2 separate regions of the Homo sapiens genome follow, and region 1 is linked to region 2. A link means that fine-mapping ties the variant in region 2 to the expression of a gene that starts in the linked region. Tissue or cell type: subcutaneous fat. Region 2 holds a variant in brackets; the other region holds the start of a gene. All regions are shown on one strand. Distances are between the middles of the regions.

Evidence for each region. PIP is the estimated chance that this variant, and not a neighbour inherited with it, causes the effect.
Region 1: SNX8 starts here. The variant in region 2 is fine-mapped to the expression of SNX8 in subcutaneous fat (FUSION, PIP 0.95).

What each region holds. Positions count from the first base shown.
Region 1 is chr7:2,310,087-2,318,141 of GRCh38, reverse strand. It overlaps SNX8 (sorting nexin 8), which reads left to right and starts at 3,701. Exons shown (of 11, transcript NM_013321.4): 1 at 3,701-3,814. The coding sequence starts at 3,721. RefSeq lists enhancers at 2,596-3,096, 3,097-3,597, 5,342-5,471, 5,512-5,591, 5,792-5,961 and 3 more and silencers at 3,416-3,685, 3,786-4,025.
Region 2 is chr7:2,262,796-2,270,850 of GRCh38, reverse strand. It overlaps SNX8 (sorting nexin 8), which reads left to right. Exons shown (of 11, transcript NM_013321.4): 5 at 1,212-1,292; 6 at 6,393-6,553; 7 at 7,489-7,621. Among named protein-coding and RNA genes, the nearest start is that of MIR6836, 9.2 kb to the right of the region's middle. RefSeq lists an enhancer at 184-794. The variant G/A (reference allele first, on the strand shown) is at 3,778.

The DNA of each region.
Region 1 (8,055 bases), 47 kb before region 2:
GCCAGGAGTTTGAGGCTATAGTGAGCTATGATTGGGCAGCTACAGTCCAGCCTGGGCAACACAGCAAGACCCTGCCTCTAATAAAAATATGATCAGGAAGTGGGCAGAGTATATATGTGTGCGTGGCACAGGGAAAGTGCTGAGTACATTATTTGGCAGCAACAGCAGCTGGAAGGAAGTGAGGGTGGAGGAAGGAAGCAGCTATCAGATATGGGGGGAGGTCACAGGATCCTGCCATGTCCCACTGTGCCTAGGGAAAGTTGTTATATGTCCATCAGCAGAAGGACATCTCGATCTCGGCTCACTGCAACCTTGGCCTCCCAGGTTATGGTGGAGAGAGCATCAATGGTGTGCCTGCTTGCATGGAGGTCCTGGTGTGCGGGGACCCTATGGCGTCCTAGGTGCAGTCATCTGTTACCGAGGCAGGGTCCAGCAGCTATAGCCAGAGGAAGTAACTACCTTGTGAGAAGGGGACGCTTCCTAGGAACTGACATGGTTCTGGGCTCTTGGTTCTGTAATCAACTCCCCGGACATTGTGTGACATCAGCGTTAGAAGGTCCAGGATGGCCGGGCACGGTGGCTCACACCTGTAATCCCAGCACTTTGGAAGGCCAAGGTGGGCGGATCACTTGAGGTCAGGAGTTCGAGACCAGCCTGGCCAACATGGTGAAAACCCATCTCTACAAAAATACAAAAATTAGCTGGGTGTGGTGGCACACGCCTGTAATACCAGCTACACGGGAGGCTGAGACAGGAGAATCGCTTGACCTGGGAGGCGGAGGTTGCAGTGAGCCAAGATCATGCCACTGCCCTCCGCTCCAGGCAACAGAGTGAGACTCTGTCTCAAAAAAAAAAAAAAAAAAAAAAAAAAAAAAAAAAAAAAAAAAAAAGAAGGTCCAGGATCCTTCCTTTGGAAACAAGCCCTTCCTGATGCAGGCCTACCAATCTCCATGCCAAACCCCACACTTTTAGCCTGGAATGACCACAGCATCTGCAGCTGATGTCTCAGAGCCTTCGTGCCCTCCTCCTACTTAACTCCTTATTCCTCCAGCCCTAACTCTGGTACCACCCATCCAGGGATCCCTTCACCCATGTAGGGAAGGGATCGCCCTTCACCCTTCACCCTCTTCTGCGGTGTGTTGCACAGCCTTGCTCCCGTTTTGGAACAGTTAGCACACTTGCTCCACTCTGGCCATCTGTGCCTCCTCCAGATCAAGGAATGCACAGGAAACATCTTTGTATTCTCAGCACCCAGCACAGGGCTTCCTGACCTCCTGGTGGCAGCCAGCAAACCTGAGTGGGCCAGTGGGTGGGTGGATAGATGCAGGATGCAGTGAGTGAGTGAGTGAGTGGGTGGGTGGATGAATGCAGGATGCAGTGAGTGAGTGGGTGGGTGAATGAATGAATGCAGGATGCAGTGAGTGAGTGAGTGGTTGCATGAATGAATGCATGATGCAGTGACTCAGTGAGTGGGTGAATGAATGAATGCAGGATGCAGTGAGTGAGTGGTTGTGTGAATGAATGCAGGATGCAGTGCGTGAGTGAGTGGGTGAATGAATGAATGAATGCAGGATGCAGTGAGTGAGTGGTTGTGTGAATGAATGCAGGATGCAGTGCGTGAGTGAGTGAGTGGGTGAATGAATGAATGCAGGATGCAGTGAGTGAGTGAGTGGGTGAATGAATGCAGGATGCAGTGAGTAAGTGGGTGAATGAATGCAGGATGCAGTGAGTGAGTGGTTGCGTGAATGAATGCAGGATGCAGTGCATGAGTGAGTGAGTGAGTGAATGAATGAATGCAGGATGCAGTGAGTGGGTGGGTGAATGAATGCAGGATGCAGTGAGTGAGTGAGTGAGTGGTTGTGTGAATGAATTCAGGATGCAGAGTGAGTGAGTGGGTGAATGAATGAATGCAGGATGCAGTGAGTGAGTGGGTGGGTGAGTGAATGCAGGATGCAGTGAGTGAGTGGGTGAATGAATGCAGGGTGCAGTGAGTGAGTGGTTGCGTGAATGAAAGCAGGATGCAGTGAGTGAGTGAGTGGGTGAATGAATGCAGGATGAAGTGCATGAGTGAGTGGGTGGGTAGATGAATGAATGCAGGATGCAGTGAGTGGGTGAGTGAGTGGGTGAATGAATGCAGGATGCAGTGAGTGTGGGTGAATGAATGTATGAAGAAGCAGTGAGTGAGTGAGTGGATGAATGAATGCAGGATGCAGTGAGTGAGTGAGTGGGTGGATGAATGAATGCAGGATGCAGTTAGTGAGTGAGTGAATGAATGCAGGATGCAGTTAGTGAGTGAGTGAATGAATGCAGGATGCAGTAAGTGAGTGAGTGGGTGAATGAATGAATGCAGGATGCAGTGAGTGAATGAATGAATGTAGGATGCAGTAAGTGAGTGAGTGGGTGAATGAATGAATGCAGGATGCAGTGAGTGAGTGACTGAATGAATGCAGAATGCAGTGAGTGGGTTGGTGAATGAATGAATGCAGGATGCAGTGCGTGAGTGGGTGAATGAATGTACGAAGAAGCAGTAAGTGAGTGAGTGAGTGAATGGATGAATGAATGCAGGATGCAGTGCATGAGTGAGTGGGTGGATGAATGAATGCAGGATGCAGTGAGTGAGTGGGTGAATGAACGTATGAAGAAGCAGTAAGTGAGTGAGTGAGTGAATGGATGAATGAATGCAGGATGCAGTGCATGAGTGAGTGGGTGGATGAATGAATGCAGGATGCAGTGAGTGAGTGGGTGAGTGGGTGAATGAATGCAGGATGCAATAAGTGAGTGAATGAGTGAATGCAGGATGCAGAGAGTGAGTGGGTGAGTGGGTGAATGAATGAATGCAGGATGCAGTGAGTGAGTGGGTGAGTGGGTGAATGAATGCAGGATGCAGTGCGTGAGTGGGTGAATGAATGAATGCAGGATGCAGTGAGTGAGTGGGTGAATGAATGAATGCAGGATGCAGTGAGTGAGTGGCTGGATGAATGAATGCAGGATGCAGTGAGTGAGTGGCTGGATGAATGCAGGATGCGGTGAGTGTGTGAGTGGATGAATGAATGTAGGATGCAGTGAGTGAGTGGGTGAATGAATGAATGCAGGATGCAGTGAGTGAGTGGGTGAATGAATGAATGCAGGATGCAGTGAGTGAGTGGGTGAATGATTGCAGGATGCAGTGAGTGAGTGAGTGGCTGGATGAATGCAGGATGCGGTGAGTGAGTGTGTGAGTGGATGAATGAATGTAGGATGCAGTGAGTGAGTGGGTGAATGAATGAATGCAGGATGCAGTGCGTGGGTGAGCGAATGAGTGGGTGAGTGGATGAATGAGGAAGTGCGAGTCAGAAAACCCCAGTGTAACCGGTGAATGAGCGAACAAGGGCGTGACTGGGCGAGGAGAGATGGGAGTGAATGAGGGTGCGGTGGGTGCAGGCTTGCGCCTGAGGTAGTGCACCTGCGAGTCCGGAGGTCCAACCTGAGGGGAGGTAACCTGCGCCACCAGCAGGCTCCGTGTCCACGTGGACGGGGAGGGGCATGTGGGCGTGGCTAGGCGGGTTGTAGGCGTGGCGAGGCCGGGCGAGGAGCGCGGCGGGCCCGCAGGGGCGGACTGTGGGCGTGGCGCGCGGGGGAGGGGGCGTGACCAGGCGGGGTGTGGGCGGGGCGAGGGCGCGGCGCGGCAGGGCTGCGCGGCCGGGTGGCGCGGGAGGAAGTCACGTGGGAGCGCGGGCTCACATGACTGGCCGCGCGATGGACCCGCTGCCCGCGGCTGCAGTCGGGGCGGCAGCTGAGGCGGAGGCTGACGAGGAGGCGGATCCCCCGGCGTCAGGTAGGGCGTGGGGCGGCGGTAGCCCCCACCTGCCCAGGGCGCGCGGCCCGACCACCCCCGGCGGACGGGGCTCAGCCGCCGCGCTTGGTCCCCGACTCGTTTCCTGCCCCCGCGCCCCGCGTTCGGCCCCACGCCCCAGTCCCTCGGAGGTCCCCCTGCCCTCCTGCGCGCCTGTCCTTTGGGGGTCCCCGTGCTCTCTCGCGCCTCCGTCCCTCGGGGTCCCCTGCCCTCCTGCGCCGGGAGAGCCCTGTCCAGGTTACAGCTGGCCGCGTTCCGAGGCGCTTTCCCGGGGCTCTCAGAGGCGTCCTCGGGGACAGTTTCCTCCTCGCCCCGTTCCTGGTGCCCTGCTCTTCTGCCCTGCCTGGTCACGCTGAGCGATGGCACTGGGGGCCACTTCCCCGGACTTGGGCGCCTTTCCTAGCCACATCCTCTCTCCCAAGCTCCTGTCGGTTGTGTGGTCTTGGGCCAGTAATTTCACCTCTCGGGACCTCTGTTTTCTCATCTGTGAACCGAATCTATAGATGTGTAGCTGCTTTTCTCTCTCTTTCAAGTGATCCTCCGCCTTAGCCTCCCAAAGTGCTGGGACTACGGGCGCGTGCAGTTACGCCCGGTAATTTTTTTTATTTTTGTAGAGATGGGATCTTGCTATGTTGTCCAGGCTGGTCTGGAGCTTCTGGCCTCAAGCGGTCCTCCTGCCTTGGCCTCCCAAAGTGCTGGGAGTACGGGCATGAGCCATCGTGCCTGGCCTGTATTTCTGTCTTTTTCTTTTTTCTTTTTCTTTTCTTTTCTTTTTTTTTTTTTTTTGAGACAGATTCTCACTGTCACTCAGGCTGGAGTGCAATGGTGCGATCTCGGCTCATTGCAACCTCCGCCTCCCGGGTTCAAGCGATTCTCCTGCCTCAGCCTCCTGAGTAGCTGGGATTACAGGCATCCACCATGACACTCGGCTAAATTTTGTATTTTTAGTAGAGACGGAGTTTCACCATGTTGGCCAGGCTGGTCTCGAACTCCTGACCTCAGGTGATCCAACCACCTCAGCTTCCCAGAGTGCTGGGATTACAGGCGTGAGCCACCGCGCCTGGCCTCTTGTATTTCTCTTTAAGGGATTTGGGTTAATGAGGCTAAACATGGCTGGGCACGGTGGCTCACGCTTGTAATCTCAGCACTTTGGGAGGCCGAGGCGGGCGGATCACGAGGTCAGGAGATCAAGACCATCCTGGCTAACACGGTGAAACCCTGTCTCTACTAAAAATACAAAAAAAATTAGCCAGGCGCGGTGGCGGGCGCCTGTAGTCCCAGCTACTCGGGAGGCTGAGGCAGGAGAATGGCGTGAACCCGGGAGGCAGAGCTTGTAGTGAGCCGAGATAGCGCCACTGCACTCCAGCCTGGGCGACAGAGCGAGACTCCGCCTCAAAAAAAACAAAACAAAACAAAACAAACGAGGCTAAACATTAGAAGGAATACAGGAGGGTGCCCCTTATTTCTGGATGTTCCTTCCTGTGGTCCTAGCTGCCAGAGAAGAGATGTAGGTGGGTGTTGGTGTGAGTTACGGTTTCTTCTTGGTGGGGGGGGACAAGATTGGGGAATCCCCTTGTGGGGAGGTCTGGCAAGGTGTCGCTGAGGAGGTGATGACTGAAGTGAGCTCTGGAGGGTTGGTAGACAGTTTCTTCGTCGGCGAGAAACGGCAGCGGGGAGCAGGGGAGGGATTGTTGCATTTGGTGGGCATCCTCGATGTGAAGACTGTGTCTAGAAAGAAGGGCCTTTCAGAATGGGTCTTCAGTTATTTTTTCCTTTCCCTTGTATCAGTGTAAGGGGAGGCACGTGATAGTTCTCGCTGATTAGAACATTGTGTCCATGAAGTCACATGTTGGAGGCCAGCGTGAGTCTCAGGCGGGACCCTTTCCGAGGGGTCACTTGGGAACAGGTAGGCTGTGATTGGATCGGAATGCTGCTGCTATCTCAGCTTGTAAAGCAATTTGGCATTGCTGGAGGGGTCCTCTGCAGGTGTAGGGGACTGTGTTTCCTTCAGGCTTCACAGAAGTAGACTCCAGAGGCTACCATAATGGTGTAATTTAGAGATAGTCTGAGCGCTGTACACCTGAGGGAGCTGTGTCTCTGGGAGACCGCCCTCCCTTTGGTGTGGCCTGGAATTCCTGTAGGTAGTTGGCTTTTTCTGGGGGCAGTGGTGATTTCATCAGGAGTGCTGATGGGATCCACAGATGGGGGTTGCTGGGACAAGGCAGTGCTTCACAGTGCCCTTTCCTGTAACCAGGCAAGTCTGAAAGTGGGGCTCACAGACTCTTGGGACGTAGACTGTCCTTCTGTTTGAAACTTGGTCGTCATCCTGGCAGGTGGGTGAAGTGGTATAGCAGGTCTTTTTTTTTTTTTCTTGAGACGGAGTCTCGCTCTGTCGCCCAGGCTGGAGTGCAGTGGTGTGATCTCGGCTCACTGCAAGCTCTGCCTCCCGGGTTCATGCCATTCTCCTGCCTCAGCCTCCCGAGTAGCTGGGACTACAGGCGCCCGCCACCACGCCCGGCTAATTTTTTGTATTTTTAGTAGAGACGGGGTTTCACCATGTTAGCCAGGATGGTCTCGATCTCCTGACCTCGTGATCTAGCCGCCTCGGCCTCCCAAAGTGCTGGGATTACAGGCGTGAGCCACCGCGCCCGGCCTCGCAGGTCTTTTTACATTGAGAAAACTAAAATCCAGAGGTAAGTAATTTGCCCAAAGTGGGCAATGTCAAGGGAATGTGTGTTGATGGGGACCCTGATTGGGTGGGCTGGAGTGAGAAAACCTCAGCCTTGAGACCAAGCACTGTGGCTCACGTCTGAAATCACAGCACTTGGGGAGGCTGAGGAGGGAGGATCGCCCGAGCCCAGGCGCTAGAGACCAGCCTGGACAACGTAGCGAAATCCTGTCTCAAATTTTTAAAAAAGAAAACAAAAACAAAAACAGCAAAGAAAAAAGTTAAGTCTCTGAATATTGTCCGGAGACTATGTGTGTGACTTACACGTTCACTAAGGTTGGTTTGAAGGAGTGGTTGTGCCTTACGGGTATACAGTGAATTTCCTCTTCTCTAGAGTTTTGGCCACACAGCCAGAGCCCACTGGTGGTATTCATGTGGGAACTGTGAAATCTCCTGCATCTTCGGTGTTGCCAGAAAAAAATGTGCTTGTTGTACTTTTCCACATTAAGAGTCTCATTCTATTTGAATTCTTTGAAGCTTAAGCTGTGAATGCTCTCTAGGGCAACCCTCTTTATAAAAACTTAATTTTCAGTTATGCCATACATGGACAAATGTATTTTCTTTAAAAAAGAATAGAACATTGTAGATTAAGTGAAAGTCCCATCCTAATTGCCATCATCTCCTGTCTGTACCTGAGAGGTGACCATTGTTCTCAGTTTGGGATGGACCGTTTTAGTTCTGTTTTCACATTTTATTCATATATGTACTCAGGAAACATATACTTCCTTATATAAGTGTGCTCATGTTTCCCTAGCGTAGTATATTCTCTAGCTTTCTTTTGTTCCTTTTATTTTTATTTATTTATTTTTTTGAGACGTAGTTTCACTCTTTTGCCCAGGCTGGAGTGCAGTGGTGCGATCTTGGCTCACTGCAAGCTCCACCTCCTGGGTTGACGCCATTCTTCTTTCTGCCTCAGCCTCCTGAGTAGCTGGGACTACAGGTGCCTGCCACCACACCTGACTAATTTTTTGTATTTTTAGTAGAGATGGCATTTCACCGTGTTAGCCAGGTTGGTCTTGATCTCCTGACCTCATGATCTGCCTGCCTCGGCCTACCAAAGTGCTGAGATTACAGGGGTGAACCACTGCGCCCAGCCACGCCTGGCCAATTTTTAAAATTTTTTGTAGAGACAGTCTGGCTGTGTTGCCCAGGCTGGTGTGGAACTCCTGGCCTCAAGCAATCCTCCCACCCGGGCCTCCCAAAGTGCTGGGATTTCAGGCATGAGGCACCGAGCCTGGCTGGATTTTATATTGAAACTATTCCTGTCAAAATATCTGATTGACCGGAACATTCTGTCCTCTGACTATGCAGGATAAGGGTTTTTTTCAGGGCCTGTTCTTAGGTCATGAAGCTCAATGATTGTGACATCCAGCGAGAACGGCAGTGAGTGTGGTAAGTGTGCTTGGTCGTCCAGCCTGATTTCTCGGGATCGATTAATACATGGATAGAAATATGTACAGATGACCACGGCGTATCCTGGCTCTGCCGTATACAG
Region 2 (8,055 bases):
GACGGCCTCTGTCCTTGTCCCTGCTGCAGGAAGACACCCCCTCTCCCAGGCTGACTTCACACAAGCCTTGGTTCCTTTTGTCTTCGTTCCTCTCGGAGGCAGAGGGGCCTTCCCCCTGTGCCTGAGATGTCCCTGGGATGCCCCCGGGGATGTCTGGAGCAGGCAGTGGGATCTTTTGAGCCCTGGGGTTGGAAACCTTCCTTTGGAGGCGATCTGCATTGCCAGCAGAGGAATGTGGCAGGACCTGGGAGGGGCGGTGGGCAGGGGTGCAGTGGGTCACAGGTGGGCAATATCCCTGTTCTGGGGGCAGGACGTTCCCTGTGGCCTTCCCACAGGTATCATTCTCTGTCACTTCCCGGCCTCAGTTTTCTTGCTTGCTTTCTGTTTTTAGAGATGGGGTCTCACTATGTTACCCAGGCTGGCCCTGAACCCCTGGGCTCCAGCGATCCTCCCGCCTCAGGCTCTGAGTAGCTGGGACTACAGGCACGCACCATGCTGGGCCTCAGGTCTTTTTTTTTTTTTTTTTTTTTTTTTTTGTAAAATGAGAGTTGAGTCAGATGATCTTTAAGGCATCTCTGAAACCTGAGAATTCCTGGACACGCAAACAGCTGCATATTAGGGTTTCCCCTTGTATCTCCTGGGTGGCTCCTGACTTTAAGGCACGGCTTTGCCCAGGAGGCCTCTTTCAGATGAGAGGGCTCCGGTGCCAGGGGCTGGGCCTGTCCCTCTGCCCAGCAGCTCCCTGGGCTCTGGTGTCCCTGGCGCCATGGATGCATTCCCAGGAAGGAAGACACTTTTGCCCTGTTCTATTGCGTTTTTGGAAGCTACCAGGGTCTCAGGTATCTCTGGGGCTGACGCCGCCCCGGGTCTGTGGATGGAGGGGCCGTTTCTCTGCAGAGCCGCCCCTGGTCTGTGGATGGAGTGGCTGTTTCTCTGGAGAGCTGCCCCCCGTCTGCGGATGGAGTGGCTGTGCCTCTGGAGAGAGGCTGCAGGTTTGTGGTGCTCCTGCTGTGAAGCCAGGCTGTCCTGTTTGGTGAGAAAAACATCTAAGGGAGAGTCAAGAGATTGCAGAATACTAATGTCAAAGCCAACATATGGAAATGTGTTTCTCCTGAGGAAAGACGACCTCCCGCTCCACAGTGACCCATACCCCACAGCAGCTTTCTTGCTGCTAGTAGAAGAGGGTGAAGCTGTGTGTTTTCCTTTTGCAGGATGTGCAGAACAAGTTAAAGGAGTCAGCACAGTGCGTCGGGGACGAATTCCTGAACTGTAAGCTGGCTACCAGGGCCAAGGTATTTTTCTTTTTTTTTTCTTTTTTTTTTTTTTTAATTTATTTTTTTATTGATCATTCTTGGGTGTTTCTCGCAGAGGGGGATTTGGCAGGGTCATGGGACAATAGTGGAGGGAAGGTCAGCAGATAAACAAGTGAACAAAGGTCTCTGGTTTTCCTAGGCAGAGGACCCTGCGGCCTTCCGCAGTGTTTGTGTCCCTGATTACTTGAGATTAGGGAGTGGTGATGACTCTTAACGAGCATGCTGCCTTCAAGCATCTGTTTAACAAAGCACATCCTGCACCGCCCTTAATCCATTTAACCCTGAGTGGACACAGCACAGGGTTGGGGGTAAGGTCACAGATCAACAGGATCCCAAGGCAGAGGAATTTTTCTTAGTACAGAACAAAATGAAAAGTCTCCCATGTCTACTTCTTTCTACACAGACACGGCAACCATCCGATTTCTCAATCTTTTCCCCACCTTTCCCGCCTTTCTATTCCACAAAGCCGCCATTGTCATCCTGGCCCGTTCTCAATGAGCTGTTGGGCACACCTCCCAGACGGGGTGGTGGCCGGGCAGAGGGGCTCCTCACTTCCCAGTAGGGGTGGCCGGGCAGAGGCGCCCCTCACCTCCCGGACGGGGCGGCTGGCCAGGCAGGGGGGCTGACCCCCCCCCACCTCCCTCCCGGACGGGGCGGCTGGCCGGGCGGGGGGCTGACCCCCCCACCTCCCTCCCGGACGGGGCGGCTGGCCGGGCAGAGGGCCTCCTCACTTCCCAGTAGGGGCGGCCGGGCAGAGGCGCCCCTCACCTCCCGGACGGGGCGGCTGGCCGGGCTGGGGGGCTGACCCCCCCCACCTCCCTCCCGGACGGGGCGGCTGGCTGGGCAGAGGGGCTCCTCACTTCCCAGTAGGGGCGGCCGGGCAGAGGCGCCCCTCACCTCCCAGACGGGGCGGCTGGCTGGGCGGAGGGCTGACCCCCCCACCTCCCTCCCGGACAGGGCGGCTGGCCAGGCGGGGGGCTGACCCCCCCACCTCCCTCCCGGATGGCACGGCTGGCCGGGCGGGGGGGCTGACCCCCCACCTCCCTCCCGGATGGGGCGGCTGGCCGGGCGGGGGGCTGACCCCCCCCACCTCCCTCCCGGATGGGGTGGCTGCCGGGCGGAGACGCTCCTCACTTCCCAGATGGGGTGGCTGCCGGGCGGAGAGGCTCCTCACTTCTCAGACAGGGCAGCTGCCGGGCGGAGGGGCTCCTCACTTCTCAGACGGGGTGGTTGCCAGGCAGAGGGTCTCCTCACTTCTCAGACGGGGCGGCCGGGCAGAGACGCTCCTCACCTCCCAGACGGGGTCTCGCCGGGCAGAGGCGCTCCTCACATCCCAGATGGGGCGGCTGGCCGGGCGGAGGGCTGACGCCCCCCACCTCCCTCCCGGATGGGGCGGCTGGCCAGGCGGGGGGCTGACCCCCCCACCTCCCTCCCGGACGGGGCGGCTGGCCAGGTGGTGGGGCTGACCCCCCCATCTCCCTCCCGGACGGGGTGGCTGGCCGGGCAGAGACGCTCCTCACCTCCCAGACGGGGTCTCGGCCGGGCAGAGGCGCTCCTCACATCCCAGATGGGGCGGCGGGGCAGAGGCGCTCCCCACATCTCAGACTATGGGCGGCCGGGCAGAGACGCTCCTCACTTCCTAGATGTGATGGCGGCTGGGAAGAGGCGCTCCTCACTTCCTAGATGGGATGGCGGCCGGGCGGAGACGCTCCTCACTTTCCAGACTGGGCAGCCAGGCAGAGGGGCTCCTCACATCCCAGACGATGGGCGGCCAGGCAGAGACACTCCTCACTTCCCAGACGGGGTGGCGGCCGGGCAGAGGCTGCAGTCTCGGCACTTTGGGAGGCCAAGGCAGGCGGCTGGGAGGTGTAGGTTGTAGTGAGCCGAGATCACGTCACTGCACTCCAGCCTGGGCACCATTGAGCACTGAGTGAACGAGACTCCGTCTGCAATCCCGGCACCTCGGGAGGCCGAGGTTGGCGGATCACTCGCGGTTAGGGGCTGGAGACCGGCCCGGCCAACACAGCGAAACCCCGTCTCCACCAAAACCAGTCAGGCGTGGCGGCGCGTGCCTGCAATCGCAGGCATTCGGCAGACTGAGGCAGGAGAATCAGGCAGGGAGGTTGCAGTGAGCCGAGATGGCAGCAGTACAGTCCAGCTTCGGCTCCGCATGAGAGGGAGACTGTGGGGTGAGGGAGAGGGAGAGGGGGAGGGGGAGGGGGAGGGGGAGGGAGAGGGCCAAGGTATTTTTCTAACTTTGAAGAGTACATCCCTTTTTAACCAGAGAAACAAGTTTTAACCCTTCAAAGTGATTTTGCCTCCTCTGCGTGGCAGGGATTATGCTGACATCTGTCGCATGGTTTCCTCATTTAACCCTCGTTTCAGTTGCTCCGACACAGGGCTGGGAGGCCTGTTTTACGGATGGAGAAACAGGCTCAGGGAGGCTGTCATTTGCCAAGGCCCC[G/A]AGCCTCTAAGCAGCAGGGCCGGGTTGCGGCTGAGCTCTGCCCTCAGGCCCTCCAGGCACCTCGTGCCCTCTGCCCTTTTCTGTGACTCAGACAGACGGATGCTTGTGTCAGCACCTTTTCAGATTTCTGGGGATTCATTGTTACATTTGTTTATTATTAAATGTTTAAAGTTTGGTCTTTTTCCAAAAAAGACTAAGGTAGCTACTTGGTAGTTTTTTTGTTTTTGGTTTTTTCTTTTTAAACCTCTTCTTCAGGCTGGCGCGGTGGCTCCTTCCTGTAATCCCAGCACTTTGGGAGGCTGAGGCTGTCGGATCACTTGAGGTCAGGAGTTTGAGACCAGCCTGGCCAACATAGCAAAACCCCATCTCTAATAAAAATACAAAACAAAAAAGGAAAACAAAAAAAAGCAAAACAAACCCCAAAAAACCGGCCGGGCGTGGTGGCTTACGCCTGTAATCCTAGCACTTTGGGAGGCCGAGGCGGGTGGATCACGAGGTCAGGAGTTCAAGACTAGCCTGACTAACATGGTGAAACCCCGCCTCTACTAAAAATACAAAAATTAGCTGGGTGCGGTGGCGTGCACCTGTAATTCCAGCTACTCAGGAGGCTGAGGCAGGAGAATTGCTTGAACCTAGGAGGAAGAGGTTGGAGTGAGCCAAGATTGCGCCACTGCACTCCAGCCTGGACGACAGAGACACCATCAAAAAAAAGAAAAAAAAAATTAGCCAGGCTTGGTGGCAGGCACCTGTAATCCCAGCTATTTGGGAGGCTGAGGCAAGAGGACTGCTTGAACCCAGGAGGCAGAGGCTGCAGTGAGCCCAGGTCGTGCCATTGCACTCCAGCCTGGGTAACAGAGTGAGACTTTGTGTCAAAGACGACAACAACAACAACAAAAAAACCAGAAAAAAACCTGCTTCTTCATACAAAAATTAAAAATCTATTTTATTTTATTTTTTGAGACAAGGTCTTGCTCTGTCCTCTAGGCTATAGTGCAGTGGTGCAATCGTAGGTCATTGCAGCCTCGACCTCCTGAGTTCAAGCAATTCTCCCACTTCAGCCTCCCAGAATAGCTGGGACCACAGGCATGCACCACAGTACTTGGCTGATTTGTTTGTTTGTTTTTGGTATAGATGAAGTCTCACTATGTTGCCCAGGCTGGTCTTGAACTCTTGGCCTCAAGCAATCCTCCTGGCATGGCCCCCCAAAGTACTGGGATTAAAGGCATGAGCCACCATGCCTGGCCAAATCTTTTACCTTCATTTTACTCTCTGAGCTTTCTGTTTTCTGAACTCTGATAGTTAGTATCAAATCTTATAAAAAGTCTTTGGGAATAAACGCGGCATAGAAGAGGCCTTCCCCCCATGTGGAGAGTCTTTCAGGAATTTATGTTCATTGTGTTTAACTTGAAGATTGTTTGTTTTTATTTTTGTTGTTTTCTGGGGACAGGGTCCCCAGGCTGGAGTGCAGTGTTGTGATCATGGCTCCTTGCAGCATGGAACTCCTGGGCTCAAGTGATCCTCCTGCCTCAGCCCTCTGTAAGCACCTGGGACCACAGGCGCTCCACCACGCCTGGCTAATTTTTTGATTTTTTGGGAGAGATGGGGTTTCACTATGTTGCCCAGGCTGTTCTTAAACTCCCAGGCTCTAGCAATCCTCTTGCCTCAGTCTCCCAGAGCGCTGGGGTACAGGTGTGAGTCACTGTATCCAGCTAAAGATTAGTATTGTTAGTTTTTGAGACGGAGTCTCGCTCTGTTGCCCAGGCTGGGGTGCAGTGGTGTGATCGCAGCTCACTGCAAGCTCCGCCTCCGGGGTTCATGCCATTCTCCTGCCTCAGCCTCCCAAGTAGCTGGGACTAGGTGCCCACCACCAGGCTCGGCTAATTTTTTGTATTTTTAGTAGAGATGGGGTTTCACCATAGTCTCGATCTCCTTACCTCGTGATTCGCCCTACTCGGCCTCCCAAAGTGCTGGGATTACAGGCGTGAGCCACTGCGCCCGGCAAGATTATTATTCGAGTGTTTTGTTGGTTTGTTTGTTTTGAGACAGAGTCTCGTTCTGTCGCCCAAACTGGAGTGTGGTTGCGCGATCTCAGCTCACTGCAACCTCTGCCTCCCGGATTCAAGCAATTCTCCTGTCTCAGCCTCTGGAGTAGCTGGGATTACAGGTGCATGCCGCCATGCCCAGCTAATTTTTGTATTTTTAGTGGAGATGGGGTTTCACCATATTGGTCAGGCTGGTCTTGAACTCCTGACCTGAGGTGATCCACCTGCCTCAGCCTCCAAAGTGCTGGGATTACAGGTGTGAGTGACTGCCCCTGGCCTTATTTGAGTGTTTTTGGATAGGTCCTCCAGTGTGATGAGATTTCAGTGGACTCTGTGGTCCTCATCCCATGGGATCATTTGTCTTTGTGTTTGTGGCATGCAGGTGATGATGGTTTTTGTTTCTTTTTTGGACACACAGAGTGATCCCTGCAGGCCTGGAGGAGTGGGGCTCCCGGGGTGGCTCATGGACCTGCTGTGTCTCCCGTGGCTCAGCTTCTGGGGGACCGGCTGCTGCCGTCTGACAGGTGCTCCCCAGCGACTAACACAGTGTCTCTCCCCCCATCATGATGTCAGGACTTCCTCCCAGCTGACATCCAGGCTCAGTTTGCCATCAGCCGGGAGCTGATCCGGAACATCTACAATAGCTTTCACAAGCTTCGCGACAGGGCCGAGCGGATCGCATCGCGGGCCATCGACAATGCGGCAGATCTTCTCATATTCGGGAAGGAGCTAAGGTAGGTGACCTTTCAGCTTCTGCAGGGGCACGCGCGGTGGGACGGGAATCCATGCTGGTGAAGGGCTTGGGCGGAAAGTGCGTTTACCGTAATAACCAGCATCCTGACCTGTTTCATCTCAGAAGGGGCAGAAAGTGGCTCAGGCACATGGGGGGTCATATTTGGAAGAAACACGGGAGAATTTCGGCCCTGAAACACGGATTTCTGAGCACGAGTAAATGCTCACCAGTTTCTAGTCTGGTAGTTTTTTCACTGTCAGGATGAGACTTTAAAAAAAGATCCCAGGCCAGGCGTGGTGGCTCACACCTGTAATCCCAGCACTTTGGGAGGCCGAGGTGGGTGGATCACGAGGTCAGGAGTTCAAGATCAGCCTGGCCAAGATGGTGAAACCCGTCTCTACTAAAAATACAAAAAAAAGTTCTCTGGGCGTGGTGGCGGGTGCCTGTCATCTCAGCTACTCGGGAGGCTGAGGCAGAGAATTGCTTGAACCTAGGAGGCGGAGGTTGCAGTGAGCCGAGATCGCGCCACTGCACTCCAGCCTGGGTGATACAGCGAGACTCCGTCTCAAAAAAAAAAAAGATCCCTTTGACTTGGGGAAGAACAGACCATGGGCTGGCAGCGCTTCCTTTGCCTGAGGGGAGGGGAGACCCCACCCGGGACTCTGCTTGCCCCAGCAGTGCCCGTCACCTGTGCACACATGTCACCTGGGGGCTGGTTGGGAAGAAGAGACGCAGCAGGTCCTGAGGTGCAGCCCCAGGGCCACCCTTTCTCCCGGGCTCCCAGGGTCCCCACAGGCCACTCTTTGAGCAGCAGGGTCCTAGGACGGGGTCACGCAGGTTGCCGTGGAGGACATCTGTCGGGGGGGATGCCAGACTCGACTGCCAGGTGAGCTCCAGGCCTTGAGTGTCTCCTCTCCTGTGTGCTTGCTCCCTCAGTGCAATAGGGTCTGACACGACCCCGCTGCCCTCCTGGGCCGCTCTGAATAGCAGCACGTGGGGGTCCCTGAAGCAGGCTCTGAAAGGCCTGTCTGTGGAATTCGCGCTGCTCGCCGACAAGGCTGCACAACAGGTGAGTGGATCGGTTCTCCCAGGCGCCTGTTCCAGAGAACACGCTATGCCTTTGCATGGGGAGTGCCTCCTGCTTAGATGGGCGTCACAGTTCGTTTTTGTTTTGTTGTTTTGAGAAGGAGTCTCCCTCTGTTGCCAGGCTGGAGCGCAAAGGCGCAATCTCGGCTCGCTGCAACCTCTGCCTCCTGGGTTCAAGTGATTCTCCTGCCTTAGCCTCCTGAGTAGCTGGGATTACAGGTGTCCACCACCATGCCTGGCTAATTTTTTGTATTTTTAGTAGAGATGAGGTTTCACCATGTTCGTCAGGCTGGTCTTGAACTCCTGACCTTAGGTGACCTGCCCGCCTCGGCCTCCCAAAGTGCTGGGATTACAGGCGTGAGCCACTGTGCCCGGCCGGCTTCCCAGTTCTGAGCCGAGTGAATGACAGCTGTGCCC